Regions from separate parts of the Homo sapiens genome. Here regions 2, 3, 4, 5, 6 and 7 are each linked to region 1. The links come from fine-mapping of genetic effects on gene expression. A gene starts in region 1. Each other region holds a variant in brackets. All regions are shown on one strand. Distances are from middle to middle.

Region 1 (4,067 bases):
CCTAGTCTTGGAAGTCAACCACCAGCAATTCTGATTCTATTCATTAAACCAAGTGACCTCAGATGATCAGCCAGCCAACGTGCTGGGATGACAGGCGTGAACCACCATGTCTGGCAAGAAATTTTGTAATTCCTTTAAGTGTTATCCTTAAAAACAAGTGATTGATTATAAAAGTTGTATTTCTTCATCCTAAAATTGGTAAAAAATAAAAAAAAAATGTGTTTAGTTTCTACTATGCATTTAGTTTTTTTTTTTTTTTTTTTTTTTTTTTTTTTTTTTTTTTTTTTTTTTGAGACAAAGTTTTGCTCTTGTCACTCAGGCTAGAGTGCATTGGCACAATCTCGGCTCACTGCAACCTCTGCCTCCCAGGTTCAAGAGGTTCTCCTGTTCAGCCTCCCAAGTAGCTGGGATTACACCACCACGCCCGGCTAATTTTTGTATTTTTAGTAGAGACAGGGTTTCACCATGTTGGCCAGGCTGGTCTCAAACTTCTGACCTCAGGTGATCCACCCGCCTCAGCCCCCCAAACTGCTGGGATTACAAGCCTAAGCCACCATGCCCGGCCCTTTCATTTAGTTTCTACTATTCATGTACACATGTACCCTGTTTTACCCACAGACAACTGTGCTAACCGTTAAGAATGTCCCAGCCTTACTAAGATTTTCCTAAGTTTGTCTCCCAGACATTGGGAACTCAAAGGTGAAGAAACTTAGGTGTGAAGGTGGATTGTGGATTCAGACCTCCTTACTTGGAGGCCAGTGCAGAGACACACCAGCAGAGTAACCTCGGGTACATGGCTTCACCTCTCCAAGCCTCACACTCCTCATCAGTAAAGCGAGGATTAGTGGAACCTACCTGTTGGCTTGTTTTGATGATTAAATGAGATAATGTCCGCGAAAAATATTTAGCAGATAAATGTTCACTAAATTTTGAGCTTTAAAAAAATGTTTTACCAGCCAGGCGCGGTGGCTCACGCCTGTAATCCCAGCACTTTGGGAGGCTGAGGCCGGTGGATCACCTTAGGTCAGGAATTCGAGACTAGTCTGGCCAACATGGTGAAACCCTGTCCCTACCAAAAATACAAAAATTAGCCAGGTATGGTGGTGGACGCCTGTAATCCCAGCTACTTGAGAGGCTGAGGCAGGAGAATCGCTTGAACCCAGGAGGCGGAGTTGGCAGTGAGCGGATATCTCGCCGCCGCACTCCAGCCTGGGCAATAGAGTGAGACTACATCTCAAACAAACAAACAAACAAGCAAACAAAGTTTAACTGAAAAGTCTTTCCTGACACCTTTTCGCTACTGAAAATCTTACAGCCCCTCCCGGCCGCAGCCTACACTCCTTCGGCCCAAGCAGGTGCGCTGGAACCGGCAGTTGGTGAGAAGCCGGCTGCCGGCAGCCCCAACCCTTAGCGGCCCCGCGGTCAGGGACCTCCAGGCCCGATGGAGAGTCGGGGCGGGCTAGTGGATGCGCGGCGGGGACGGGAGGTGTCGCCGCTCCGGCTTGCCGGTGACAGGGGCGGGCGGGTCGTGCGCGGGCCCCACCTCCAGCGATCGCAGCCCAGCCCCAGCTCCTCCTCCTCCACGGCTTACCCGGGCTCCGACAGCGGCTGCAGGTCTCCAAGTTGCGGCCGCTGGAGCCCGAGCCATGCGGACCGCGGACCGGGAGGCGCGCCCGGGGCTTCCGTCCCTGCTGCTGCTGCTGCTGGCCGGGGCCGGGCTGTCAGCCGCCTCGCCCCCAGCAGCGCCGCGCTTCAACGTGAGCCTGGACTCGGTCCCCGAGCTGCGCTGGCTGCCCGTGCTGCGGCACTACGACTTGGACTTGGTGCGCGCCGCGATGGCGCAAGTCATCGGGTGAGCTGGGGCCCTGGACGGGGTCTGCGGGGACACCGGCCCTGCGGGTCGGAGTCAAACGCGCGCTGCTCAGAGTGCTTTAAACGGGGACGCTTTACTCCCCGCCACCCTTGGAGAACTGGTTTTGGCTGCCGCCCTGAGCAGCGTCCGGGTTGGGGAGAATCCAGCGCGGCAGGTTCGGCTTTCAAGTTCGGTGTCACCCGTGGCACGCCAGTCCTTGAGCCATTCCGGGTCAGCGTGGCGCGCGAGTTGTCGCCCGGGCTGCATAGCTACCAAGGAGGGGCAACCCGCGCCTTCCTTGCGGGCCTCGCGGGCCTTCCAAGCTTGCCCCTTTGGGACCAGCCTCACTCGCCCTCCCCATTCGGAGTTTTCTTACCCGCCGCCTTCCCCCCGCCCCCTTCCCCCCACTCCCGGGAGGCTGCAGATTGAGTGACGCCGCGCCTGGGCGGTCCACTGACTGGGGAGCAGTGGCCCTGAGACCTCACGCCCTAAGGATGTAGCCCCGCTCGCAGTGCACACGCAGTCGCACGCCGCCGACCTCTGAGCGGGTCAGACGCCCTTGTGCTTTTTGTTTCTAGGGACAGAGTCCCCAAGTGGGTGCACGTGTTAATCGGAAAAGTGGTCCTGGAGCTGGAGCGCTTCCTGCCCCAGCCCTTCACCGGCGAGATCCGCGGCATGTGTGACTTCATGAACCTCAGCCTGGCGGACTGCCTTCTGGTCAACCTGGCCTACGAGTCCTCCGTGTGAGTGCCCCAAGCCCGCGCGGAGTAACGCGGGGCTTGCGGGGGCCCCCGACACAGACTAGCGGGAGGAGACATATTTTCCGTGTGATAAAAACAGGGCGGTGCCTGCTTGCCTAGAAACCTCCAGCGCTTCCTCTTTGCCTCTCTGGGTAAATCTGAGCTGCACATCGTAGGCTTCGAGAGGGAAAGCAGATTCTCCGATTCAACACTAAACTTTCCCTCTACGTGTAGCCCCGGGTTTTCTCTTCCCCAATCCAGGTAGCGTACTTTTAAAATTCTGCTCAAAGGCCGGGCGCGTTGGCTCACACCTGTAATCCCAGCACTTTGGGAGGCCAAGGTGGGCAGATCACGAGGTTAGGAGTTCGAGATCAGCCTGGCCAACATAGTGAAACCCCGTCTCTACGAAAAACACAAAAAATTAGCCAGGCGTGGTGGTGGGCGCCTGTAATCCCAGCTACTTAGGAGGTTGAGGCAGGAGAATCACTTGAACCCGGGAGGCGGAGGTTGCAGCGAGCCGCGATCGCGCCACTGCACACCAGCCCTGGCGACAGTGCGAGACTCTGTCTCAAAAAAAAAAAAAAAAAAATTCTGCTCAAAACGTACTTTTCCAGGAAGTTTTTGAAACTAAGCCTCCTCTCATCTGGACCCTTTAGTTAACTCAGTGGCCTTCCAGCTCTATACTGGCAGTGGCTCATCTCTGCCCTTATTTGTCGCCCTGCATTTATCCTTTCATGTGTGTCGTGGCTGAAGTGTCTGTGTCCACCAGGGCTGGGGCGACAGGGAACACTGCTCTAATAGGGCCAGCCAGTGTTTGGACCGGGAAGTGGGCATGATAAAATGTGCATCCAGGCTGGGCGCGGTGGCTCACGCCTGTAATCCCAGCACTTTGGGAGGCCGAGGCGGGTGAATCACCTGAGGTCAGGAGTTCAAGACCAGCCTGGCCAACATGGTGAAACCCCGTCTCTACTAATAATACAAAAAAATTACCAGGGCCTGGTGGCGGGCACCTGTGAATCCCAGCTACTTGGGAGGCCGAGGCAGGAGAATCACTTGAACCCAGGAGGCAGAGGTTGCAGTGAGCCAAGATGGCACCATTGCACTCTGCAGCCTGGGCGACAAAGCGAGATTCCATATCAAAGAAAAAAAGTGCACCCAGAAGTGAAAGCAACATGGAGTGTGTGGTTGATCCCAGGCAAAGTGCAGGGGACCACTAAAGGTTTATGGGCTCAGTAATAGGCCCTGGAATAAAGAGAGGTTTTGACTTGGTTTCTTCCTTCAATACTTATTGTTTTGCCAGCAGACTAGCTTCATCTCGTAACCTCTTGTACATACTTAGAGCTTCTTGCTGCCTAAAGATGATGGGGGTAGAAAAGATCTTGGAATAATGAAACTTTACTGGCCCAGGCATTTTCCCAGAACACCTAGGCAGAGTAAGCTAAAAAGCACTGGGACTGCCTTCCTCTTCAGGAAAT
Region 2 (4,067 bases), 61 kb before region 1:
ATTCCAAAGGAGGATGGCATATAATACAAAGGCTTATTAATTTGACTAGAAAATTTAAAACATTACTCTGAAATTGTAACTAAAGTTAGAAAGTTGATTTTAAGAATCCAAACGTTAAGAATTGTTAAAGGCTATGATTGTCTTTGTTCTTCTACCACCCACCAGTTGAATTTCATCATGCTTAAGGCCATGATTTTAGCAATACCCATGTCTACACAGATGTTCACCCAACCACATCCCACTCACAACAGCTGCCTGGAAGAGCAGCCCTAGGCTTCCACGTACTGCAGCCTCCAGAGAGTATCTGAGGCACATGTCAGCAAGTCCTAAGCCTGTTAGCATGCTGGTGAGCCAAGCAGTTTGAAATTGAGCTGGACCTCACCAAGCTGCTGTGGCCATCAACCTCTGTATTTGAATCAGCCTACAGGCCTCACACACAATGTGTCTGAGAGATTCATGCTGATTGTTATTGGGTATCACCACTGGAGATCACCAGTGTGTGGCTTTCAGAGCCTCCTTTCTGGCTTTGGAAGCCATGTGATTCCATCTTGCCCGCTCAGGCTGACCACTTTATTTCTTTTTGTTCCCCTTTGCTTCATTCAAGTCAGCTCTTCTCCATCCTACCACAATGCAGTGCCTTTCTTCTCTCCAGTGCACCTGTCATATGCTCTGATTTATCTGAGTCAACTCCTTTCTCATCTTGTCCCCAACACCCCACAGAAGTGCTTTCTTCTCCCAATTCATCCTCACTCAGTCCAGCTTAGTTCAAGTCCTGCCTCTTAAATAAACCTTTTTGGACACACAAATTATCTTAAAACTCCTGTTTCACTTGGTTCAGTACCACATGGGTGAACACTCAATGGTTAACTAATTCTTGGGTGTTTATCCTATCTCTCCAACCAGATTGTCAGCTCCTTGAGGGCAAGAGCCACAGTATATTTCCCTGTTTCTTCCACAGTGCCTAATAATACTGTGGAACTAGGTTTTAATAATTTTTTAATTGATGTTGTTATGGGCAGGATGGCAACCAGACCATTGTCTCAGAGCAGGTGCTGGCTCTTTCCTGGCTACTCCATGTTGGCTAGCCTCTGGTAACCTCTTACTTATTATCTTCAGGACACTCACTACAGGGACCAGGGATGATGCAACATCCTTGTCTTTTTATGACAGGATGTTTGCTCAGCTTCTCCAACAATAAGAAGCACGTGGTAAAACACTTGCGGATATTCTGGACTGTTTTTAAAAAATATACAGTTTACCGAAAATCATATAATCTTACAATGAAAAGGACTTTATAGATCAGCCAGTGACCAACCTTTTCCCAACCATACAAAAATTCCTTTTCCCGAAGGAAAAGGGCTTTCTCAATAAGCCTCAGCTTTCTAAGATCTAACAAGATAGCCACCGAGATCCTTATCGAAACTCATTTTAGGCAAATATGAGTTTTATTGTCCGTTTACTTGTTTCAGAGTTTGTATTGTGATTATCAATTACCACACCATCTCCCATGAAGAAAGGGAACGGTGAAGTACTAAGCGCTAGAGGAAGCAGCCAAGTCGGTTAGTGGAAGCATGATTGGTGCCCAGTTAGCCTCTGCAGGATGTGGAAACCTCCTTCCAGGGGAGGTTCAGTGAATTGTGTAGGAGAGGTTGTCTGTGGCCAGAATTTAAACCTATACTCACTTTCCCAAATTGAATCACTGCTCACACTGCTGATGATTTAGAGTGC[T/C]GTCCGGTGGAGATCCCACCCGAACGTCTTATCTAATCATGAAACTCCCTAGTTCCTTCATGTAACTTCCCTGAAAAATCTAAGTGTTTCATAAATTTGAGAGTCTGTGACCCACTTACCTTGCATCTCACAGGTAGACAGTATATAACTAACAACCAAAGACTACATATTGTCACTGACACACACGTTATAATCATTTATCATATATATACATACATGCATACACTCTCAAAGCAAATAATTTTTCACTTCAAAACAGTATTGACTTGTATACCTTGTAATTTGAAATATTTTCTTTGTTAAAATAGAATGGTATCAATAAATAGACCATTAATCAGAAAACAGATCTTGATTTTTTTTCTCTTGAATGTACCCTTCAACTGTTGAATGTTTAATAGTAAATCTTATATGTCCTTATTTACTTTTTAGCTTTCTCTCAAATAAAGTGTAACACTAGTTGAGATAACACATGAAAGCTCTTTAAAGGGTCGATCGGGAACAGGAAAAAAAACCTATGGAAAATATGACAACACTGCCTTACAACAACACTGATTTAAAAGAGTTATGTGGGGCTGGGCGCAGTGGCTCACGCCTATAATCCCAGCACTTTGGGAGGCCGAAGTGGGCGGATCACTTGAGGTCAGGGATTTGAGACCAGCCTGGCCAATATGGTGAGAGCCCATCTCTATTAAAATTACAAAAATTAGCTGGGCATGGTGGCATGCGCCTATAGTCCCAGTTACTTGGGAGGCTGAGGCAGGAGAATCACTTGAACTCGGGAGGTGGAGGTTGCAGTGAGGCAAGATCATGCCACTGCACTCCAGCCTGGGTGACAGAGTGAGACTCTGTCAAAAAAAAAAAAAAAAAAGCATTATGTAGAATTCAATGTATTTCCTAATCCTCAAGAGTAACACTATTCCAATGAGGTGTGTCCCCAGGAAGCCAACACGTCTTCTTTTCTATCCCTAAAATTGTATATGTTTAAATATTGTAAAGCCTCAAGTAGTTATGATGGAGACCTAAACACTGAATGAATTATTTAAGGGTCCAGGAAACTTGGGCTGGAGGCATTACGCAGCGTGGAGTCTCTAAGAAGGTTGAGAGTGGAACGAAGAGCATCAGCCTGTACACTTGATGTACACTTTAGAGGCCAGACAGGTGTAATATTCGGGCAGATAACAGCTGCTAATGGTAGACATGAATTCTCACAAGGGCCTTCACCTGAGAGGCAACAGGACTCTGGAAGGAGCTAAGATCCTGGATTCTGAGATATCCTGGTTAGAATCAGGGGCCCACTACTTATTAACTGTGTGACCCTGGTTAAAGTATAATATTTAACCTCCCAGTGCATCATTTTCCTCATTCCAGATTGTTGTGAGGAGCAGGTTCAGCATAGGTCTTGGTGCAGAGAAAGTCCTCAATGTTTGTCCCAGATCCTCCCTAACCACTTACCTCTGCTGCATCTTCCTTGCAGCAGATGGATCCTACATCTCATAGAGAGAGAAATGTTTCCAGCACTGAAAAAACATGTTGGAGAAATGAGACTAAAAGGCTTCCTGACCAGTTCTCAATATCTGTATTTTATAATCCTAGTCCAGGCCATCATTGTCTCTTTCCTGAGCTACCTCAGTAGCCTGCTGTTTTCCCTGTTGGCTCTTCTTCTCAACATTTCTCTTGCTTCCCTAACTTCCATGACAACTAGAATAATCTTTTTAAAAAATAACTTACAGAATGCTGCCACCTTGCTTAAAATCCTGCAGCTTAGCATTAAGTCAAAACATACCATGAGCTGGCCTAACATAAGCTGGGATCTGCCTGCTTATCTAATCATGCTCCCTCTACCCTCCCCTCCTTTGTTGAGCCTCAGCATCACCTTTTTTCTGTATGTCTCTTGAGCACACTGAATTCATTGCCTTCTGGGGTTTTTGTTCCCTGTGGTTCTGGGTTGTACTATATCAACTTGGTTAGTCTTACAACTACATTTCCCAGAATCTCCTTCCCTGTGTGGTTCCAGGTTATAGTTAGCCAAAGAAGAACTCATGTGAGATTTGGAAATCAAAAGTGAAGGAGTGACCCTTAATCTTGATTAGACATATTGACAGACACACTGGTAGCCAGTGGATCCCAGCTTGTCCTTGCTCTTTTCCTCCATGTTCAGCTTATGCTCAGGACTGCTGGCCTCATGATCAGTGATGGTCCCAGGCCCCCCACCCAGATATTTGGCAGTGGACCCACAGAGGCGGTAGTTACACAGAAGCAACAGCTCCCATAGACCCTAGCAGCCCCAATTTGGCGCTGAACGGGCTTAACTTCTTGGATTTTTCACACAAGCTCTATTT
Region 3 (4,067 bases), 49 kb after region 1:
TCAGGTGATCCACCAGCCTCAGCCTCCCAAAGTGTTAGGATTATAGGTGTGAGCCACCACGCCCAGCCTCATTCACTATTCTGAACATGGTTTTACAGAAGTCAGTCAGTGGGGTTCAACCTCATCGCTTACTATTTAGTGAGTGCCTTTGAGAAATACTAGTAGTATGAATTTTTTTCATAGGAAATCAAATTTATCTTTGTTTAAGTTCCTCCCAGCTTCTCTTTTCCCATGTCACCATCATCTTTCCTCTTAGGGAAATCAGCAAGAATTCTATTATCTGTCTAATGCAAACGAAACATATTAAATCAATCTGTCTACTCTTTATGAGGTTGACCTGAGTCAGCCTGCAGGATTTCTAATCCAGCCTGCAGGATTTCTAATCCAGCTTTATCCACAAATAGTCCATTCATCACCAGCAGTGTATCTAAGCCTTGGAGCTTAAAAAGAATCTAGTTATGTGGACAGCTGTTCCCTTCTCTGGCAACAATACTTGACCACACAGGTCCTAAACCTTATATAAAGAATGAAACTCCACACCCTAACCTGCCCTACCTGGTCACCTAGCACAGGTCCTGGCAAAAATGAGAGGCCCAGTGGCCATGTGGGGGACTGCATGGTCAGTGCTGTCTATCTTATGACGGGGGTGCTTAAAGCCTGTAGGGATATCATGGAACTGGGGATGGCAAGCATGGGAGCTGGGACACAGTTGCTACCCCCTGACATCGTATGATGCATTCATTTGAGTATTCGTTTATTGTTTGCTTTTCCTAGTCTTCATCTGGCCCCGCCCCTTTTCCAGATGAGGACATTGAGGCCCCAGATGACTTGTCTGAAACCACAGAGCTTGTCAGGGCAGTTCTAGGTCTAGATCCCAGGTGTCCTGACATCCAGTCTATTGTCACAATATCAAAATGTCCACCCCACCCCCGCATTATAACCTGTCAGGGATGCTGCATCCTTGCAATCTCATGAGTTTACATCTCCTTCTCGGAATCCTGGCAGTCCAACCTTTTCATCCCTATACAGAAATGTTTTCATCAATACATGGGAATTCTAATCAACCTACAGTGATATGAGTATAACCATCAGGCAGGAATGAAGGGGAGGGGCAGGAAATGGGGAAAAGCACTATTGCCAGCAGAAAGGGAAATACTTCCTATGGGCGTCAATGGGTAGTGCTTCTGCTCCATCTTGTCCTCACATATACAGTGGGAGAGGGCTGAGCAGCTTCCTCTCCCTACCCCCAAACCCCTGGCCCAGGGAGTCCGAGCTCACAGGCTTGCTTCTCCATCGGTGTCATAGCCTTCAAGGCAGCAGCCCTGATCCAGAGATGGTACCGGCGCTACGTGGCCCGCCTGGAGATGAGGCGGCGTTGCACCTGGAGCATCTTCCAGTCTATAGAATATGCTGGGCAGCAAGACCAAGTCAAGGTACAATGAGATGTGGGACGGAGCCGCCTCCTGCTCTCCCTTGGGCAGCAGGGCTCGGGTGCTCCTAAAGTGAGGCCAACTGGACTACTTGTGGGTTCTCTTTTCGCTCACCTCTAAAGCCACGTCTCCTTGGGTTCTTCTGCAGCTCCATGACTTCTTCAGCTATCTCATGGATCACTTCATCCCCAGCAGCCACAACGACAGTGAGTATGAACTGCCACATGTCATGTCCTCCTGTCGCAAGGCCATAGATTACACGGTGAGGTGGGGGATGCACAGGGAGTGAAACCGTGAATCTGGTGACAGCCAGGGAATAAGCAAGGGGCTGAGGAGTAAATGGCAGACTGGGGTTTTATGCCAGGTTCTCCTGAACACACACCTGGAGACAAGAGTTTGGACGCAAGGAATTCATTTATTAAGTTCAAGAAACCCTGGGGGTGGGAGGGAGTGGGGAAGGGATTCAGGAAAGGAATCGCAGCCAGTCCAGCAACTCAGTGTGCCTAGGAAACAGTGCAAAACGCAAGCCTCAGAATTATACCCCCTGCAGGCAAAGGGAACTGGAGTTTTTCTGTGTCAACTCCAGGAGTCATTGGTTGAAAGCGGCTGGGGAGGTGGGAGAGAAGTATAGGAAGGAGGCTTTTTCTTTTCTTTTCTTTTCTTTTTTTTTTTTGAGACAGAGTCTCGTTCTGTGACCCAGGCTGGAGTGCAGTGGCATGATCTTGGCTCACTGCAACCTCTACCTCCCGGGTTCAAGTGATTGAACCTCAGA[T/C]ACCCAAGTAGCTGGGATTACAGGTGTGCACCAACACACCTGGCTGATTTTTTATATGTTTAGTAGAGATGGGCTTTCACCATGTTAACCAGGCTGGTCTTGAACTCCTGGCCTCAAGCGATCCACCTGCCTCGGCCTCCCAAAGTGCTGGCATTACAAGCGTGAACCACTGAGCCAAGCCAGGAGGTTGTTAATTCCATAGCATTTCTGGCCTGCCATCCGGATCCAGGAAATAAGTCCTCAGTCTGGAGATGCCAATGCTGGCAGCTGGAAGCTGCTGGAAGGCACTGCCAGGTCTGATGCACCTGTTGCGCTCACTAAATGCAACATAAATACCTGTGATTTTTCCACACTGGCTTTCCCCTTTCCTTCTGCTTGCAAATCCAGGTCCCTAAATTTCTGTACTCTCTAAGTCTGACAAATCTTGATCTTTTAGAATAAAAGTAGAAAGCATGACTTTTTCCTCCTGCCCATCCTAGACTGTTGTCACTTTCTCCTTCCTTTTTCCTCTTCTGTGCTGGAGCTGAAGCTGAAGCCAGATTAACCATGTCCTGCTTCAATAGTCCAGGGAAGGACTTTTTTTTTTTTTTTTTGAGACAGGGTCTCACTCTATCGTTCAGGCTGGAGTGCAGTAGTATCATCTCTGCTCATTGAAACCTCTGCATCCCAGGCTTATGTGATCCTCCCATCTCAGCCTCTTGAGTAGCTGGAACTACAGGTGTGTGACACCATGGCTGGCTAAATTTTTAAATTTTTTTTGTAGAGGCAAGGTTTCCCTATGTTGCCTAGGCTGTTCTCAAACTCCTGGGCTCAAGCAATCCTCCCTCCTTGGCCCCGCAAATTTCTGGGATTAGAGAGCCACCGTGCCCAGCCAAGGACTATTCTATAGTGCCCACAGACTGCATGATCAGATGATCATAAGCTGATCCACCTTTTCTATCTGGACTAGGGGACTTCCTGACCCGCATATTCACTGAGGACAGATTCGCCCAGGACTCCGAGATGAAGAAATGCAGTGACTATGAATCCATAGAGGTACCCGACAGTTACACGGGGCCACGCCTCTCCTTCCCACTCCTGCCTGACCATGCAACTGCCCTGGTAGAAGCATTCAGACTGAAACAAGTAAGCTCACCTGGGGAACCTGGGTCACTACCAACTCCATGAAATGTGTGAAGGGAGACGAAACCCAGCACAGAAAGAATGGCCCCAGATTTAGGGTGTTCATGTCATGTGTCCACTAGAGAGATTCTACCCCTGCTGTGCTTAGCCAGGACCTTGCAGTCAATCAGCCAGTTCTGATGATTGACAGCTTTTCTTCCTAATCACATAATCTCTCATTGTTCATTCATCCCACACATAACTACTGAGCACTGCTGTGTGCCCCACATTGCTCTGGGCACTGAGGATACAGCAGTGAACAAAACAGATAAAATCTCTGCCCTTATGGGGCTGGCATTCCATCGGGGAGGCAGACAATGAACAATAAATAACAATAAATAAGACAATTATGCAGTATATTAGAAGGCGATGAGAGCTATGGAAAAGAATAAACTAAGTTATGGATGGAAGAAATAGCAATTTTATAGAGTTGTCTGGGAAGGTGATTTCTGAGCAAAGATCTAAGGTGGTGAGGAATGCGCCGGAGAAAGAGCGTTCCAGGTAGAGGGAGGAACACATGGAAAAGCCCTGAAGCAGAAACTTGCCTGGACTGTTCACGAACCTCGGGAGGCCACTGTGGCTGGAGAAGAGGGAGCCAGGGGAAGAGTAATGGAGGTGAGGGGGTGGACTTTTATTCTTCCAAAAGAGACAGGGAGACAGCAGACATAGGAATGACATAATCTGACTTGTTTTTTTGTTTTGTT
Region 4 (4,067 bases), 620 kb after region 1:
CAAAACTGCTGGGGTAGAGGCTGGAATGACCCTGGCATGGTCTCTGCCAGGTACAGAGACCCTGGCATGGTCTCTGCCACTTAGATTTCTGATCAGAAAGCAAGAAAGCAAGCTACAAACAAATCTAGGCTGAGGAATCTGTACAAGTGTTGGCTGAAAGAACATAAAGAGAAGCTTTAGAAGGAAAAGACAAGGTCATCTTAAGGTCGAATTACAGAGGCAATGAGTTAATTTCCATGGAAGGGAAGTAGAAAGTAGCTGTGGGGTCCAACTTCTTTTCTTCTTTCAGCCTCAATTCTTTATGTGTGAAATAGGAATAAAAATTCCCATGTCTCATAATGGGAATGAAAATCAAATGAGATGGGTCAAAGTGTTTTGTAAACTGTAAGGAAAGATGGTTCTGAACTTACCAGGAGATTTCACTGGATCTCTTGCTAAGTAGACCAGAGGAGAAAGGTCTTTGATCACTAATTGATCAAAATTATTAGGCAGGGATGGGAGGCACACACCCTATTGATTCGAGGAAGGTCTCTTCCCCGAGTAGATCCCAAAAGGTGCTAATTGACTACTCTGTAGTTACAATAATAGGATGCCTTCTAATATGTATAATTTTTCTTATTCATATTAGTTTTACTTTATTAATATCATCTTATAAAGTTCTAAAAGCATCACTTTTAAATTATATGGATTTCTTTGAGAATTGAATAGAAACTGTTGGCCCTTTTCTCAGGAAAACACCTAGATAGGTTATTCCCTACTTCACTGTCACACCCAAAATTTTGATGCTCTGATCGGGCAAGCTAGGCAAGCAGCCTCCTTTGCAGAATGCCATCCTGTCTCATTTCTGCCAGGCTGCCATGAGTGTGATATACAACTAGCAGGCTAAGGGGTGAACAATCTATGGCAGACAGGGTGTGGTTGGATCCAGCACATCACCCTTACAGGAGGAGAGTAAAATGGAAGACAAGTGAATTCTCAGTAATGGTTGTGAAACCCCTGCTTCCTTCCTGGGCTACTCGTGAAAGGCCTGACTACCAGATGGGAACCACTATAATACATCATACAACCTGGAATAATTTGGTAGGTTTTTAAGAAGCATACGTATATGTGGAAGGAGGTCTTCTTAATGGGCTGAATGAAAATAATAGCAGCATGTCATTCTTTCACGATGAACTATTTCCCCACTCCTTTTATATGAAGGATGCTCATTAGAAAGTAGCAAAGATAAAGGGTAGGTTTTGGTCTATAATTGAAGTGCACAAGGGGTCCTAATGATACCAGAGGAGGCATAGAACATAAAGTTGCTACTGTGTCATGCCCACCCTTCCCAACTTCTTCTACTCCTCCCGGCTGAATAATGGCTTTGTGAACATAAGTTATTAGGAATCAAAAAACTTTCAAACACATCATCACTCTCTACTTTAAAAAATTAGTGTGTTCCCATGTAATTGTTAGCAATTCTTACATAGATCCAAGAGACACTGATTTGCTTCCACTAAAAATATCTCCTTTATAGGTTTGTTAGTTCACCTCAAATATTTCTACCATTGGGATCCTATCTTTAAAATAAAATATTGAAAACCTATGCTAAAATTTTATGTACTTTATATAAATGTAACTTACCATTAGTTGTTAATACCTTGTTAAGAATTGTTTAGTCATATTGGCTTGGAAGGTAATAAAAACAGAGAATTTTGATGAGGCCAACTCATGAAGAAAGGTTCTGAACTTAGGAGATTTCATTGGATCTCCTCCTAAGCAGATCAGAGGAGAAAGGTCTTTGATCACTGGTTGATCAATATGCTGACAATGGTGGGTTAAGTGGAAGGTGGAGGATGGGAGAGTGAAGTGTGTAGATATTAAGACAAATACAATATGGTTTCTTACTTTAATGAGCTCACCATC[C/T]AGTAGGAGAGCTAGACATTAAAAAAATATTAAAAATTTTGTTTAAAGTAGATAATTTCAATGTAATATGATACATGCAGAAAGAAACACATAGGCACCACCTGCTATGGAAACTAAGGAGATTCCCAAACCAGTCTGGAGTTGGATAAAGTCGTAGAAGTTTTGTTGGAGAGATGAGCCTGACCCGAGTTTTTGTCTGTTTCTTTTTCAAAGCCAGGTTTATTGAAGTAGAATTTACATATAGTAAGATTTATCCCTTTTAGGGGTACAATTTTATAAATTTTGACAAATATATATAAGTTATATAACCACCATCAAAATATAGAATATTTCCATTATCCTAAAATGTTTTCCTGAGCCTTTCTGTAGTCAATTACTTTCCTTCACACTCAGCCCCTGGGAACCCCTGATCTGATTTCTACTCCTATAATATTTTTTCTTTAAAAAATTTTATTTTCTTTCTTTCTTTCTTTTTTTTTTTTTGAGGCAGAGTCATGCTCTTTTGCCCAGGCTGGAGTGCAGTGGAATGATCTTGGCTCACAGCAACTTCCACCCTCCGGGTTCGAGTGATTCTCCTGCCTCCTTCTCCCAAGTAGCTGGGATAACAGGCATGGGCCACCACGCCTGGCTCATTTTTGTATTTTTAGTAAAGATGGGGTTTCACCATGATGGCCAGGCTGGTCTCAAACTCCTGACAAGAGATCCACCAGCCTCAGCCTCCCAAAGTGCTGGGATTAGAGGCGTGAGCCACTGCGCCTGGCCAAATTTTTAATTTTTTGGTTTTCTTGTTTATTTTTTATTTCCTTTTATCTTTTTCCCACACATTCTGATATCCCTATAATTTTGCCTTTCCAAGAATGTCCTATAAAAGGAATCAGAGAGCATTTAGCCTTCGCATCAAGCCACTTTTATTCAGCATAATGCTTTTGAGATTGATCCATGTTGTTACATGTATCAGTAATTTGCTCCTTTTTGTTGCTGAATAGTACTTCATTAAATGCATGTACCACAGTTAGTTTTCTCATTTGTCAGTTGGAGGCCATTTGGGTTGTTTCAGGTTCTGAGGAATTGTAAATAAAGCTGCTATAAACATTTGTGTCCTGGTCTTTGTGTGGCATATGCTGTCATTTCTCTTGGATGAATACCTAAGAGTGAGATTGGTGAGTCATATATTAAATATACGCTTATAAGAAACTCCTTGTTTCCACCAGCCATGTATGAGAATCCCCAAGGGGAGCTTATCTTTATTGAGGTGCAGAAAGAAGATTTATGGAAGACTTTTTTGGCCTGTCATCACGTAAGCTGAGACCCAAAAGAGAGAAGTTACTGTAGCAAAACAGGGAAGAGGAGTTAGTAAGGCAAACGGGCTGAAGAAGAGCATTCCAGGCAAAAGGATTCGCATGGGCAAAAGTTAGCAAAGATGCTTTTAAAAATAAGGATGCCAAGTGTCCGTTTTATGTGACAATATGCAAATTCCTGGTGATATTTGCAGGAGCAGTTTCAGTGGAGTGTGGTGGGTGGAAGGAAATTTAATGATGTTGAAGAGTGAATTGGATGTGAGAATGTGAAGGGAAGTATCTAGACCATTCTCAAAAATGTTGGCTGGTGAGTGAAATGGAGAGAGGGTAGGAGTTGGAGGTAGCCCACAGGGACCAGGAGAGTTAAGAGTTGCAGAGGGCTGGGAAGGATGATGGTTTAGACAGGAAGGGGTTACATATGCAGGCAAGGGAGACAGCAAAAACAGGCTTGGGGCAGAAAAGAGAAGAGAAAATAATGTAAAGGCAGCACTTGACCTGGTTGTCTGACATCTTATTCTTTGCACTGTAGGCAAGGGAGAGAGGTAGAGACACAGCAGAAAGCTGAGGCCATTCCTCTCTGATTTGTCTCCTATTTATTATGAAAACTAAAGAAGACAAAATAGAAGGAAAAGTAGATTCCAAATGGAGAATTTGGAAGTCCTGTCTAGGCTCCCCCTTAAAAAGGCAGGTTCGTAGAACTATATAATAGGTTTATATCTAAAAAAATTAGTACATGTTTTTGGTAAATATAATTTAAATACAATAAAGTATATAAAAATCCCTCACAATCCTACAATTTGTTATTAACATTTTGTTGGATTTTCTTCCAATCTTTTATTTCTTCATATGCTTTTCATGTAACAG
Region 5 (4,067 bases), 31 kb after region 1:
ATTTCACCATTGTGATTTGTTCCTGCCCCACCCTAACTGATCAATTGACTTTGTGACAAGACACCCTCCCCACCCTTGCAATAATGTACTTTGTGATATTCCCCCGCCCTTGTGAATGTACTTTGTACGATACACCCTCCCCACCCTTGAGAAGGTACTTTGTAATATCCTCTCCGCCCTTGAGAATGTACTTTGTAAGATCCACTTCCTGCCTGCAAAAAATTGCTCCGAACTCCACCGTCTATCCCAAACCTATAAGAACTAATGATAATCCTACCACCCTTTGCTGACTCCTTTTTTGGACTCAGCCCACGTGCACCCAGGTGATTAAAAAGCTTTATTGCTCACATGAAGCCTATTTGGTGGTCTCTTCACACAGATGTGTGTGACAGTGATAACAGTGTCACGTGGTTTAACTACAATGTGTCCAGATATTGAATTTTGTTTAAGCCTGCTTGGGATTTGTTGTGCTCCCCAAATTTCAAGTTTGTGTCTTTTGTTCAATTTTGGAAAATAGTCAGCTATCTCAGAATTGCTCACCTACATTCTCTTGTGTCTTTTCTCCTGAACTTTAAGTATGCTGAAGGAGCTCAGAACACACTACCCCAAATATGCCACTTTGGTATAAGGACTATTTTGAGCTAAAGGCACTTACAAAACCAGCAGGGAAAAGAAATTCACTCTGACCCTCCCCATTTTCTTCCTGAAAACAAGAGATAAAATCTCCATTTGGAAGATGTCCTTCCAATATCAGGAGGAAAGTAACACTCTTATCAACAATCTAAATGTCCATCTAGGCATGAATGGATAAAGAAAATGTGGTATGTACACACAGTGGAATATTATTCATCCTTTAAAAAGAAGACAGACAGGCACAGTTGCTCACATCTGTAATCCCAGTTACTCGGGAGGCTGAGGAGTGCTTAAGCCCAGGAGTTTGAGACTAGCCTGGCCAACATAGCAAGACCTTGTCTCTAAAAAAAATGTTGTTTAAGGCTGGGCGTGGTGGCTCACGCCTATAATCCCAGCACTTTGGGAGGCCGAGGCAGGTGGATCACAAGGTCAGAAGTTCGAGACCAACCTGGCCAATATGGTGAAACCCTGTCTCTACTAAAAATACAAAAATTAGCTGGGCACGCACCTGTAGTCCCAGCTACTTGGAAGGCTGAGGCAGGAGAATTGCTTGAACCAGGAAGGTGGAGGTTGCAGTGAGCTGAGATCACGCCACTGCACTCCAGCCTGGGTGACAGAGTGAGACTCTGTCTCAAAAAAAAAAAAAAATTTGTTTAAACTTTGCTGGGAATGGGGGTGTGCACCTGTAGTCCCAGCTACATGGGAGGCTGAGGTGGGAGGATCACCTGAGCCCAGGAGTTTAAGGCTGCAGTGAGCTATGATCATGCCACGGCACTCCAGCCTGAGCAACAGAGTGAGAACTTGACTCTAAAAATTAAAAAAGATGGTCTCGCTGTGGGGGAGGAAAAATCAATTCCTCTACCCATCTTACGTTCTCAGCTGGGGCCTTGTAAATTAGACTGACAAAAGACAGATTAACATAACAACAAAAAAGATTAACAATTGAAAAAACAAATAGAAGTTGATTAACATATGTACAGAATACGCAATATGGAGTACCCAGAGAAGAGTAACTCAAAGGTTTGTTTTGAACTTGTTTTTATATGGCATCTTAGCAAAGGAACTATAAATTTTTAGAGAAGTGACAAGACAAAGGAAAAGGACCTTGAGTCTCTCGGGGCAGCAAATTGTGGGAAGGAAAACATATAGTAACAAAAGATAGATGAAAGTTAATTGGCTGGGTGTGGTGGCTCACACTTGTAATCCCAGGACTTTGTGGGGCTGAAGCGGGCAGATCACCTGAGGTCAGGAGTTTGATACCAGCCTGGCTAACATGGTGAAACCCCATCTCTTCTAAAAATACAAAAACATTAGCTGGGCGTGGTGGCGGGGACCTGTAATCCCAGCTACTTGGGAGGCTAAGGCAGGAGAATCACTTGAACCTGGGAGGTGGAGGTGAAGGTGAGCCGAGGTCACACCATTGCACTCCAGCCTGGGCAACAAGATCGAGACTCTGTCTCAAAAAAAAAAAAAAAGTTAATTATATGAATTGGGTCATTCTTGTCATGACCAACTAAAAAAGTCAAGACCAGGTGCGGTAGCTCAGCGCTTTGGGAGGCTGAGGCAGGAGGATTGCTTGAGACTAGGAGCTTGGGCAATGTAAGGAGACTCTTGTCTCTACAAAAAACAAACAAAAAAATTAGCCAGTGTGGTGGATCATACTTGTAGTCCCAGCTACTTGAGACAATTGCTAGAGCCCAGGAAGTCAAGGCTGAAGTTAAGCTATGATTGCACCACTGCACTCCAGCCTGGG[C/T]GACAGGATATCTTGTCTCTAAAAATTTTTTTTTAATTATAAAAGGGCATTTAGAGGACAGGAAGAAAAAGCACACAGGGCACAAAACATTGCTCCAAGAATGCAATTCTTGGCAAGCTTGACTGCTGAAACCGTCGTTAAAACCTGAAACCAGTTTTATCTAGTAGCTACTGAAACAGCTGCTAAGACTGTAAGATTAATTTTACCCACTGCAACCACTCACCAATCAGAGTTTGCCCCCTTCCCAAAACTTTACTAGCGCTGATGAACATTCTTTCAAAACAATATGTAACATTTCTCCTTTTTATAAAACTTCCAACCTTCTCTTTGTTCTTTGAACGTACCGAAGATCACCCTGTCTCTGTGGACGACCTGGAATTGCAATTCTTGCTTCCCCCAAAAAATGTTAAATTTGTCTCTATATTTTATTTGACTTAAACAGTAGATAAAGCCTAGTTTGTACAGTTTGGTATGTAGATTTCTCTGGTGCCATGTCCAGGCCAATAAGGATCTAGAATTGTCTCTGGGGATTAGCCTTTGTCCTTCCTGAAAGAGGAAGAAGAGGAGCAAGACTATCTTCTTTTTTATTTTTTTAAAGCCGAGGTCTCACTCTGTTGCTCAGGCTGGAGTGCAGTGGCGTAATCATAGCTCACTGCAACCTCAAACTCCTGCACTCAAGCAATCCTACCACCTCAGCCTCCCAAGTAGCTGGGACTACAGAGTCTTGCTCTGTTGTCCAGGCTGGAGTGCAGTAGAGTCTCGCTCTGTTGCCCAGGCTGGAGGGCAGTGGCATGATCTCCACTCACCACAGACTCTGCCTCCTGGGTTTAAGCAAGTCTTGTGCCTCAGCCTCCTGAGTAGCTGGGATTATAGGCGTGTACCACCAGGCCTGGCTAATTTTTTTTTTTTTTTGAATTTTTAGTAGAGACCGGGTTTTGCCATGTTGGCCAGGATGTTCTCAAACTCCTGAGCTCAAGAAATCCACCTGCCTTGGCCTCCCAAATCACTGGTATTATAGGCATGAGCCACTGCATACTGTTTGCTGCTTTTTTTTTTCTTTTTTTGAGACAGAGTCTCGCTCTTGTTGCCCAGGCTGGAGTGCAATGGCATGATCTCTGCTCACTGCAACCTCCACCTCCTGGGTTCAAGCGATTCTCCTGCCTCAGCCTCCCAAGTAGCTGGGATTACAGGTTCCCGCCACCATGCCCGGCTAATTTTTGTATATTTAGTAGAGACGGGGCCTTACCATATTGGCCAGGCTAGTTTTGAACTCCTGATGTCAGGTGATCCACCCACCTCGGCCTCCCAAAGTGCTGGGATTACAGGCGTGAGCCGCCATGCCCAGCCTGTTTGCTGCTTTTTAATTGCCTTTAGCTCAAAATAATTTTTTTTTTTTTAAGAGACAGAGTCTCGCTCTGTTGCCCAGGCTGGAGTGCAGTGGCGCGATCTCGGTTCACTGCAAGCTCTGCCTCCCGGGTTCACGCCATTCTTCTGCCTCAGCCTCCCGAGTAGCTGGGACTACAGGCGCCCACCACCACACCCGGCTAATTTTTTTTATTTTTGGTAGAGACAGGGTTCCACCATCTTAGCCAGGATGGTCTCTATCTCCAGACCTCGTGATCCGCCCACCTCTGCCTCCCAAAGTGCTGGGATTACAGGCATGAGCCACTGCACCCCGCCT
Region 6 (4,067 bases), 20 kb after region 1:
CCTTCTTCCAGGTACAGGGCAGGATCCTCTCTGGAAAGGGGATCATATGACCTACAGTCAAACAAGTTAGGACAGATCATTTCTTTTTTTTTTTTTTTTTGAGACAGGGTCTCACTCTGTCACCCAGGCTGGAGTGCAGTGGCATGATCTCGGCTCACTGCAACCTTCATCTCCTGGGTTCAAGCAATTCTCCCACCTCAGCCTCCCTGCATAGCTAAGTATAAGGCAGGAAAACTCTACAAAGCCCTGCCATGGGTTTTGTAGAGTTTTCTTGCCTTATGGTTATTGCTGTTAAGGTTTATGGTGCTGAATGACGGAGCCTTTGCAGACACCAATACCTTGAATTGTTCTTTTGTTTGACCCTATCACCACCTCCACCCTTGACAATGTGCCCTGGCAATATCCAGGATGGGTGAGCATACAGTGTACTTCCTTTAAAACATGGCAGCAGAGTGGTTGTGAAGGTGGAGACAGGAAGAGCAGGCCCTCCACCGAAGGATATTCTTGAGCAGATCAGCTCTAGGAAGGAGCCCATATGGAATCTGAAGATTTGGGGAGTGATCCCCTTAAGTATCCTTGCCACAGGCCTTTGGAAGTCATCATGCGCCCTCGGGGTGTCTGAACACCAGTTAAGCTCAGGGCGCTAATGTAGCGCATGCTCTTTCATCCCCAAGCCTTTGCCAGTCTAGTCCATCGAACTAGAACCCTCCTCCCCACTGCCACTCCTCACCCTGCAACCACCACTTTCACCACTCACTTGTGTTTGTCTCTTTAGCTTCAATTCATGCGATGCTTCCCAGCAGTACCTCCTCCACTGCCCTTGGTGAGGATGGGACCCCTACTGTGACGTCCATAGCATCTTATTCTCCTATGTGAACTCTCATTACACTGTGTCACCATTGGTTGTTGACTTTTCTGTCTTCCTCAGAGGCTTGGGGAGAATAGGACCAGGCGACTCATTCACTGCTCTATCCCCCACCAGCACAGTGCCTGGCACAGTGTAGATATTCAAGAAAACCCTGTTTAAATAATAAATGAATGAAGAAGCACAAAAAGTCCTTTGTGAGGGCGATCTGCCTGGAGAGCACACAGCCGGTGTTTGCTGAGCCAGGCCTAGGGCTTGTCAACAGTTCTCTCCTCCTGTCAGAATTTCCTGCTGCTCCTGGCTCCGCTTTGAAGCTGAAATTTCTTCCATCTTAGGAGCCCTGATAACAAGAGGATAAGGTCAGAGCAGATCAAGGTGATAGTCATGACATAACATATCAGGAGAATGTGCTTTGGATCATTTTTGCATCATCTGGTGTGGACCCAACTGCAGGTGGGGTTGCTCACGCAAGTTCATCCTTTCGTTCAGACCCTGAGTGAGTCGGAAAACTTCGAAGCAGCTGTTGGCAAGTTGGCCAAGACTCCCCTTATTGCTGATGTTTATTACATTGTTGGTGGCACGTCCCCCCGGGAGGGGGTGGTCATCACGAGGAACAGAGATGGCCCAGCAGACATTTGGCCTCTAGATCCTTTGAATGGAGC[G/A]TAAGTAGAATTGAAAGCTCTGGTCATTTTGTATCAGATAATCATTTTTTTTAATCGGTGAAATGAGGGGTATTTTAAATTTGTTCATATGTCTCCTCTGCTATGTCGTAAATTGCCTTGGATAAGACAAGATGATGTGCTCTGTTGTAGGTGGTTCCGAGTTGAGACAAATTACGACCACTGGAAGCCAGCACCCAAGGAAGATGACCGGAGGTAGGCTGCTACGTGCTTTCTGGTTTGCAGTGTTTTCTTATGGTCAGGAGAATATGCCCATTCTGTCACAGGAACTGGCAAGACCTATGGGTGCTATCCTCTCCCAGAAAATGTACCTGAGCCCCTTCGCCAGTGCCTTGGCTGGGAAGGGAGTGTTGTGTGGAGGAGAGCAGTGGGCAGAGCCTCTCAGCAGCTGGGCGGGTGTTGGGAGGCTGTCAGGGTCAGGAGCCCTAGAGCCCACCACCAGCTCTGCTAGTGACTCACTGGGTGGCTCTCGGGCCTCTGTTTACCAGTCTGTAAAATGAAAGCAAAGGGCCAGGTTCATGGTCTTCTAGGCAAGATATTTTTAGAAGGAAATTATTTCCCTTATTTAAACAATAAATAAACCAGTCAAGGGTTTTTATTGTCCCTTCAAGTTGTAAACATTCTATAATTATAAGTCAGCACAGTTCCAAAGTGCAGGTAGCTATATACGTTGCCTTGGCTTTACTACCCCACAAGTTTGGCCACTGTTCAGTTCTGCAGCCACACATTTTCATCATCCCAGCTTTCTGGAGCAGATGGTGCCAACCGTCCCAGCTGCTGGATGAATTCCACTGTGGTGGGCTGGGCCTCAGCAGGAAACAGGCTTGGGGCCAGAATCTGTTTTGGAGAAAGGGAGATAATGAGACTGGAGCTTGCATTCTGCCTCCCAAAAATGACAGCTGATGGGCTTCAGTGCTTGTTGAAATGCCAAGTGACCTTCGACCTTTGTCCTTACAGAACATCTGCCATCAAGGCCCTTAATGCTACAGGACAAGCAAACCTCAGCCTGGAGGCACTTTTCCAGGTAACTTGTGTCACAGTGTCCTGCATACCTAGGATGTTTGGTGTTTTGTTAATAGTGAATATGAAAAACTCCGTGAAATCTTCTGGTAGATGAAAACGTTAGGGTAAAAGTTTTATTTGGTTGAAATCATGTATTAAAAGTGGTGGCTCACACCTGTAATCCCAGCACTTTGGGAGGCCTAGGCAGGCAGATCACGAGGTCAGGAGATTGAGACAATCCTGGCTAACACAGTGAAACCCTGTCTCTACTAAAAATACAAAAAATTAGCCAGGTGTAGTGGCGGGTGCCTGTAGTCCAAGCTACTCCAGAGGCTGAGGCAGGAGAATGGCGTGTACCCGGAAGGCGGAGCTTGCAGTGAGCCGAGATTGCGCCACTGCACTCCAGCCTGACAGAGCGAGACTCCGTCTCAAAAAAAAAAAAAATTATATGACATTTTCTCAACTTGCTTTTATATAAGTTAAAATGTCCATCTTCACCAAAGTTTTTCTTTATATTAAAAAGAAAAAGTCATAGTTGTAATATATGTTCATTGTTTAAAAGAAAAAAAGAGAAAGAATTAAAAAGTCAGGCCGGATGTGGTGGCTCACACCTATAATCCCAGCACTTTGGGAGGTCAAGGCAGGAGGATCACTTGAGGTCAGGACTTCGAGACCAGCCTGGCCAACATGGTGAAACCCCGTCTCTACTAAAAATATATAAATTAGCCAGGCTTGGTGGTGTGTGCCTATAATCCCAACTACTTGGGATGCCGAGGCAGGAGAATCGGTTGACCCTGGGAGGCGGAGGTTGCAATGAACCAAGATCATGCCACTGCATTCTAGCCCAGGTGACACAGCAAGACTGTCTCAAAAAAAAAGTCTATATCACCTCAAGGTACACTAAAGAGTGGTTATGTTCTTTCTACAGACATTCTTTTTTTTTCTTTTTTAGTAAAGACAGGGTCTCTCTATGTTGCCCAGGCTGGTCTTGAACTCCTGGGCTTGAGTAATCCTCCCACGTCGGCTTCCCAAAGTGCTGGGATTACAGGCCTGAGCCACTGCACCCGGCCCTCCATAGATATTCTATGTGTATTTCTTCTACCATGTAATCTTCTCTATAAAATGACTTTTTCCTATGCAGATTTTGTCGGTGGTTCCAGTTTATAACAAGTAAGTGGCTTGTTAAACATGTCTGTTCACACATCACTCCAGAACAGTGAACTCACTCACGTACTGTTTGGCTCAGCAAGGATCTGAGGGCTCCTGTAACCAGGCTGTGGGGGCACTCCTGTGGGGGCACTCCTGTGGGTACAGCTGCGAGCAAAACAAAGTCTCTGCTCTCATGGGACTAATATGGGTGGGGTGGGGGTGGTGGTGATAAACAAATATAAATCAGGTGAGAAGTCCATGAAGAAATCCAAAGGTAAAAAGAATAGAGTGACCCTGAAGGAGGCTCTGGGAATTTTTTTTTTTCTTGAGCCAGAGTCTCGCTCTGTCACCCAGGCTGGAGTGCAGTGGCG
Region 7 (4,067 bases), 41 kb before region 1:
AAAACTGGCTAGCCATATGCAGAAAGCTGAAACTGGACCCCTTCCTTACACCTTGTACAAAAATTAAATCAAGATGGATTAAAGACTTAAACAAGAGTCCTAAAACCATAAAAACCCTAGAAGAAAACCTAGGCAATACCATTCAGGACATAGGCCCGGGCAAGACTTAATGACTAAAACACCAAAAGCAATGGCAACAAAAGCCAAAATTGACAAATGGGATCTAATTAAACTAAAGAGCTTCTGCACAGCAAAAGAAACTATTATCAGAGTGAATAAGCAACCTACAGAATGGGAGAAAATTTTTGCAATCTATCCATCTGACAAAGGGCTAATAGCCAGAATCTACAAGGAACTTAAACAAATTTACAAGAAAAAAAAAACCCCATCAAAAAGTGGGCAAAGGATATGAACAGACATTTCTCAAAAGAAGACATTTATGCGGCCAACAAACAGTGAAAAAAAGCTCATCAGCACTGGTCATTAGAGAAATGCAAATCAAAACTACAATGAGATACCATCTCACGCCAGTTAGAATGGCAATCATTAAAAAGTCAGGAAACAGCAGATGCTGGAGAGGATGTGGAGAAATAGGAACTCTTTTACACTGTTGGTGGGAGTGTAAATTAGTTTAACCATTGTGGAAGACAGTGTGGCAATTCCTCAAGGATCTAGAACCAGAAATACCATTTGACCCAGCCATCCCATTACTGGGTATATACCCAAAGGATTATAAATCATTCTACTGTAAATACACATGTACACATATGTTTATTGCAGCACTATTCACAATAGCAAAGACTTTGAACCAACCCAAATGCCCATCAATGATAGACTAGATAAAGAAAATATGGCACATATATACCATGGAATACTATGCAGCCATAAAAAAGGATGAGTTCATGTCCTTGCAGGGACATGGATGAAGCTGGAAACCATCATTTTCAGAAAACTATCACAAGGACAGAAAACCAAACACCGCATGTTCTCACTCATAAGTGGGAGTTGAACAGTGAGGACACATGGATACAGGAAGGGGAACATCACACATTGGGGCCTGTTGGGGTGGGGGGCTAGGGGAGGGATAGCATTAGGAGAAATACCTAATGTGGATGACAGGTTGATGGGTGCAGCAAACCACCATGGCACATGTATACCTGTGTAACAAACCTGCACATTCTGCACATGTATACCAGAACTTAAAAGTATAATTTTTAAAAAGGGGTGGCAGTGGGGGGGTGGGATTTTGACTGGAGAGCTTCATGTACTTGAGATATAATTTATATTTCTGCCCTGTTATTTTTCTGCTGATTTGAGTGCTCTGCATACATGGATATGGTAGTAGGGGTCATTTATTTTTATTTTTATTTTGTGAGACAGGGCCTCCGTGTTGCCTAGGCTGGAGTGCAGTGGCATGATCATAGCTCACTGCAGTCTCAACCTCCCTGGGCTCAAGTGATCATCCCATTTCAGCCTGTTGAGTAGCTGGAATTACAGGTGCACGCCACCACACCCTGCTAATTTTTGTATTTTTTGTAGAGACAAGGTCTCCCTGTGTTACCCAGTTTGGTCTCGAACTCCTGGGCTCAAGTGATCCTCCCACTTTGGCCTCCCAAAGTGCTGGGATTACAAGTGTGAGCCACTACACCCAGCAGTCGGGATCATTTAGATAGTAACT[G/A]GCAGAACAGGGCTACAATCTGAATTTGGGATTCATGCTTCTCTGTTCTTACACCATGCTGCCTAAACTTGTAGTGATAATTCCAAGGAAAAGTTCTTTAGATTATCTGTGATGTGCTCAGGTCTTTAAAAAGCGCACTTTGAAGAATGCAGATAAGGCAAAAGGAGTGTTTTTATATACTTTTGCATTATCTTTTTCTCCATGTGATCGTCAACAGTTTCTACTAAGAATTTCTCTACTGAATGTCTGTACTGAGAAAGTCATGTAATACAATGTGACAAACTTAAATTTTATTTTTCTGCAGTTTCTACAGCAGTATAATCACTACAAATCCAATGTGGAGATTTTCAAATTGCAACCAAATAAACCCAGCAAAGAACTAGCAGAGCTGGTGATGTTTATGGCACAGGTAAGAATATAATTGCTTAAATAAAGACCAGTATTAACACACAGTTTGCTGAATGTTTTTTCACTAATACTCAACCTTATTCCACTCTGGAATGGGAACTTAATTAAAATATTTTTCTAACTTTCCCTTTTTGCAAATTTTATTTTCTCCCTATCATGAGTTAGAGAATGTCACTAGATCTTTTTGCATAACTAACCAGGACAAAACTTTAAGACTATTTTTTTTCTTCAAATTCATCATAAAAGCAGGTACTAAATCATGCCATAAATATTACTAAGACTAGAGAAACCATGATAAATGTTGGAGAAATTAACATGTAGAAGGAAAAGAAGGTTGTTTGGAACCATCTACTTCTATGAAACATAGCCTTTTACTCTCGTTTTGCAGAACATCCTAAATGTATGCATCTGAATTATAGGAGAGAAAGAGAGCAACTTCAGAAGAGCCTTTGCTTTGTTACAGATTAGTCACTGCTACCCAGAGTACCTAAGTAATTTTCCTCAAGAGGTGAAAGATCTTCTCTCCTGCAATCATACCGTATTGGATCCAGATCTGCGAATGGTAGGACCAGTAGTTGGATGAATAAATTGTGCTGTGTTCATGTGTGCTGCGTTCATATATATTTAAATGAGAACAGCCTCTAAGCTAATTATCTTCAGAAAACGTAAATTATAATGTATTATCCTTTCCTAAAAATCCTTCTATGGCTTCTCATTTATACTTAGAGTAAAACGGAAACTTAATAACCTGGCTCAAAAGTGCCTGCATGATCTGCTTCCAGCCTGTGTTTCTGATATCATATTGTTTTCAGCTACACTGTGATCTTTCTATTCTTCCAGCACACTAACCCTACAGGATGCTCTTTAACCTTTTGAGATGATTTCTTCTAGTCATTCAAATCTCATATGCATGTAGAATCCTAATCACAACTTGTCATTTTTATAATGCCTTAAATTAGTAAACTTACCCATTAGACAGTCAGTTTGAGCATTTCATCATTGTCCTTTTAGTGGTTGGGGTTGAGTCCTGGCTGACATTCCCTTCACGAGGCCGGTGTACCTGTTTGCCCCACTTGTTGTGAATGTCAGCTGCTGGTGGCCCTCAGCTGCCCTTTCTCTGCAACATTGTCCTCAGCTAAATCGGAGTCCTAGTGCCTGGGAGGTGTCCTCCTACCCTAGTAGCCCACAGCCCATTATCATGTGGTACAAAAGCCCAGCCCATTACCTCAGGGTGGCTCTGACTCCAATGCAGGATGTGCTCCAGTGTTTTCCTGTGTTGGGACTAAAGCTAGTCTCCAGTCAAGGGCACATCCTTGCTTTGCTTTGCGTGTCTCTGCACTATCCTCCTTCCTTCACTTCCTTTCTGAGATCATACCCCCAACAAATCACTTGTAATAAATCAGTCTCTGCTTCTAGGGACTAAGACATTTCCAAATTTAATACATCTGCTTTTCAAACCTCTTTACAGCAGATAAGTACGCAAATATGATCACAAAACGTACTAATATCCTATAGCACAACTTGTAGAAATGCCAAGTCTTTAGATGAATATTTGTTTTCTTTTAGACTTTCTCAGGTTTTTTGTATTTCTATCATTTTTATACTACTTTAGGATTTTAGTAATTTGATTAGGCCAAAAAGAAAAAGAATACTGTCTCAGACAAGCCAAGGTTTCAGGCCCTGGGTTGTCAACTGATTGATACTCAGCTGGTACATGGGACCTGGCAGTATAGCCCAAGGGACTCCAAACTTGAACCCCTAGTCTAAAGGCTTTTACCTATGTCATGTTACTCTTGAAGTCCTTGTAGGTCATAGAGATTTGATATTTTGAGTATAGAGACTTAATGGCTTTCCAAGTAATTAGGATTTCTTTAAGTTTTATTTTCCTGGCAGTACCCCACCAAACTGGTCTGTGGGCATTATTAAATTAATATATATGCCAGGTGCACCTGTAGTCCCGGCTTCTTGGGAGGCTGAGGCA

What was found.
Region 2: its variant is fine-mapped to the expression of NAAA in sun-exposed skin (GTEx, PIP above 0.99).
Region 3: its variant is fine-mapped to the expression of NAAA in whole blood (INTERVAL, PIP above 0.99).
Region 4: its variant is fine-mapped to the expression of NAAA in minor salivary gland (GTEx, PIP 0.99).
Region 5: its variant is fine-mapped to the expression of NAAA in whole blood (INTERVAL, PIP above 0.99).
Region 6: its variant is fine-mapped to the expression of NAAA in whole blood (TOPMed, PIP above 0.99). The same link has a PIP of 0.9 or more in T cells, blood mononuclear cells and monocytes.
Region 7: its variant is fine-mapped to the expression of NAAA in whole blood (TOPMed, PIP above 0.99).

Annotation. Positions count from the first base shown.
Region 1 is chr4:75,938,529-75,942,595 of GRCh38, reverse strand. NAAA (N-acylethanolamine acid amidase) reads left to right here and starts at 1,583. Exons shown (of 11, transcript NM_014435.4): 1 at 1,583-1,852; 2 at 2,431-2,595. The coding sequence starts at 1,647. RefSeq lists silencers at 1,361-1,830, 2,231-2,300.
Region 2 is chr4:75,999,469-76,003,535 of GRCh38, reverse strand. It overlaps CXCL9 (C-X-C motif chemokine ligand 9), which reads left to right. Exons shown (of 4, transcript NM_002416.3): 4 at 1-2,261. All of the region lies in intron 2 of SDAD1-AS1 (SDAD1 antisense RNA 1), which reads right to left. Among named protein-coding and RNA genes, the nearest start is that of CXCL9, 6.0 kb to the left of the region's middle. The variant T/C (reference allele first, on the strand shown) is at 1,729.
Region 3 is chr4:75,889,217-75,893,283 of GRCh38, reverse strand. It overlaps PPEF2 (protein phosphatase with EF-hand domain 2), which reads left to right. Exons shown (of 17, transcript NM_006239.3): 3 at 1,306-1,433; 4 at 1,579-1,636; 5 at 3,152-3,327. Among named protein-coding and RNA genes, the nearest start is that of PPEF2, 11 kb to the left of the region's middle. The variant T/C (reference allele first, on the strand shown) is at 2,203.
Region 4 is chr4:75,320,783-75,324,849 of GRCh38, reverse strand. No RefSeq gene overlaps it. Among named protein-coding and RNA genes, the nearest start is that of LINC02483, 31 kb to the left of the region's middle. The variant C/T (reference allele first, on the strand shown) is at 1,906.
Region 5 is chr4:75,907,131-75,911,197 of GRCh38, reverse strand. It overlaps a transcript of NAAA not described here. Among named protein-coding and RNA genes, the nearest start is that of PPEF2, 6.7 kb to the right of the region's middle. RefSeq lists enhancers at 682-1,603, 1,604-2,526. The variant C/T (reference allele first, on the strand shown) is at 2,387.
Region 6 is chr4:75,918,411-75,922,477 of GRCh38, reverse strand. NAAA (N-acylethanolamine acid amidase) reads left to right here. Exons shown (of 11, transcript NM_014435.4): 6 at 1,355-1,527; 7 at 1,678-1,740; 8 at 2,503-2,569; 9 at 3,689-3,717. Among named protein-coding and RNA genes, the nearest start is that of PPEF2, 18 kb to the right of the region's middle. The variant G/A (reference allele first, on the strand shown) is at 1,528.
Region 7 is chr4:75,979,953-75,984,019 of GRCh38, reverse strand. SDAD1 (SDA1 domain containing 1) reads left to right here. Exons shown (of 22, transcript NM_018115.4): 2 at 1,983-2,087; 3 at 2,550-2,648. It overlaps SDAD1-AS1 (SDAD1 antisense RNA 1), which reads right to left and starts at 3,230. Exons shown (of 3, transcript NR_125906.1): 1 at 3,055-3,230. The variant G/A (reference allele first, on the strand shown) is at 1,679.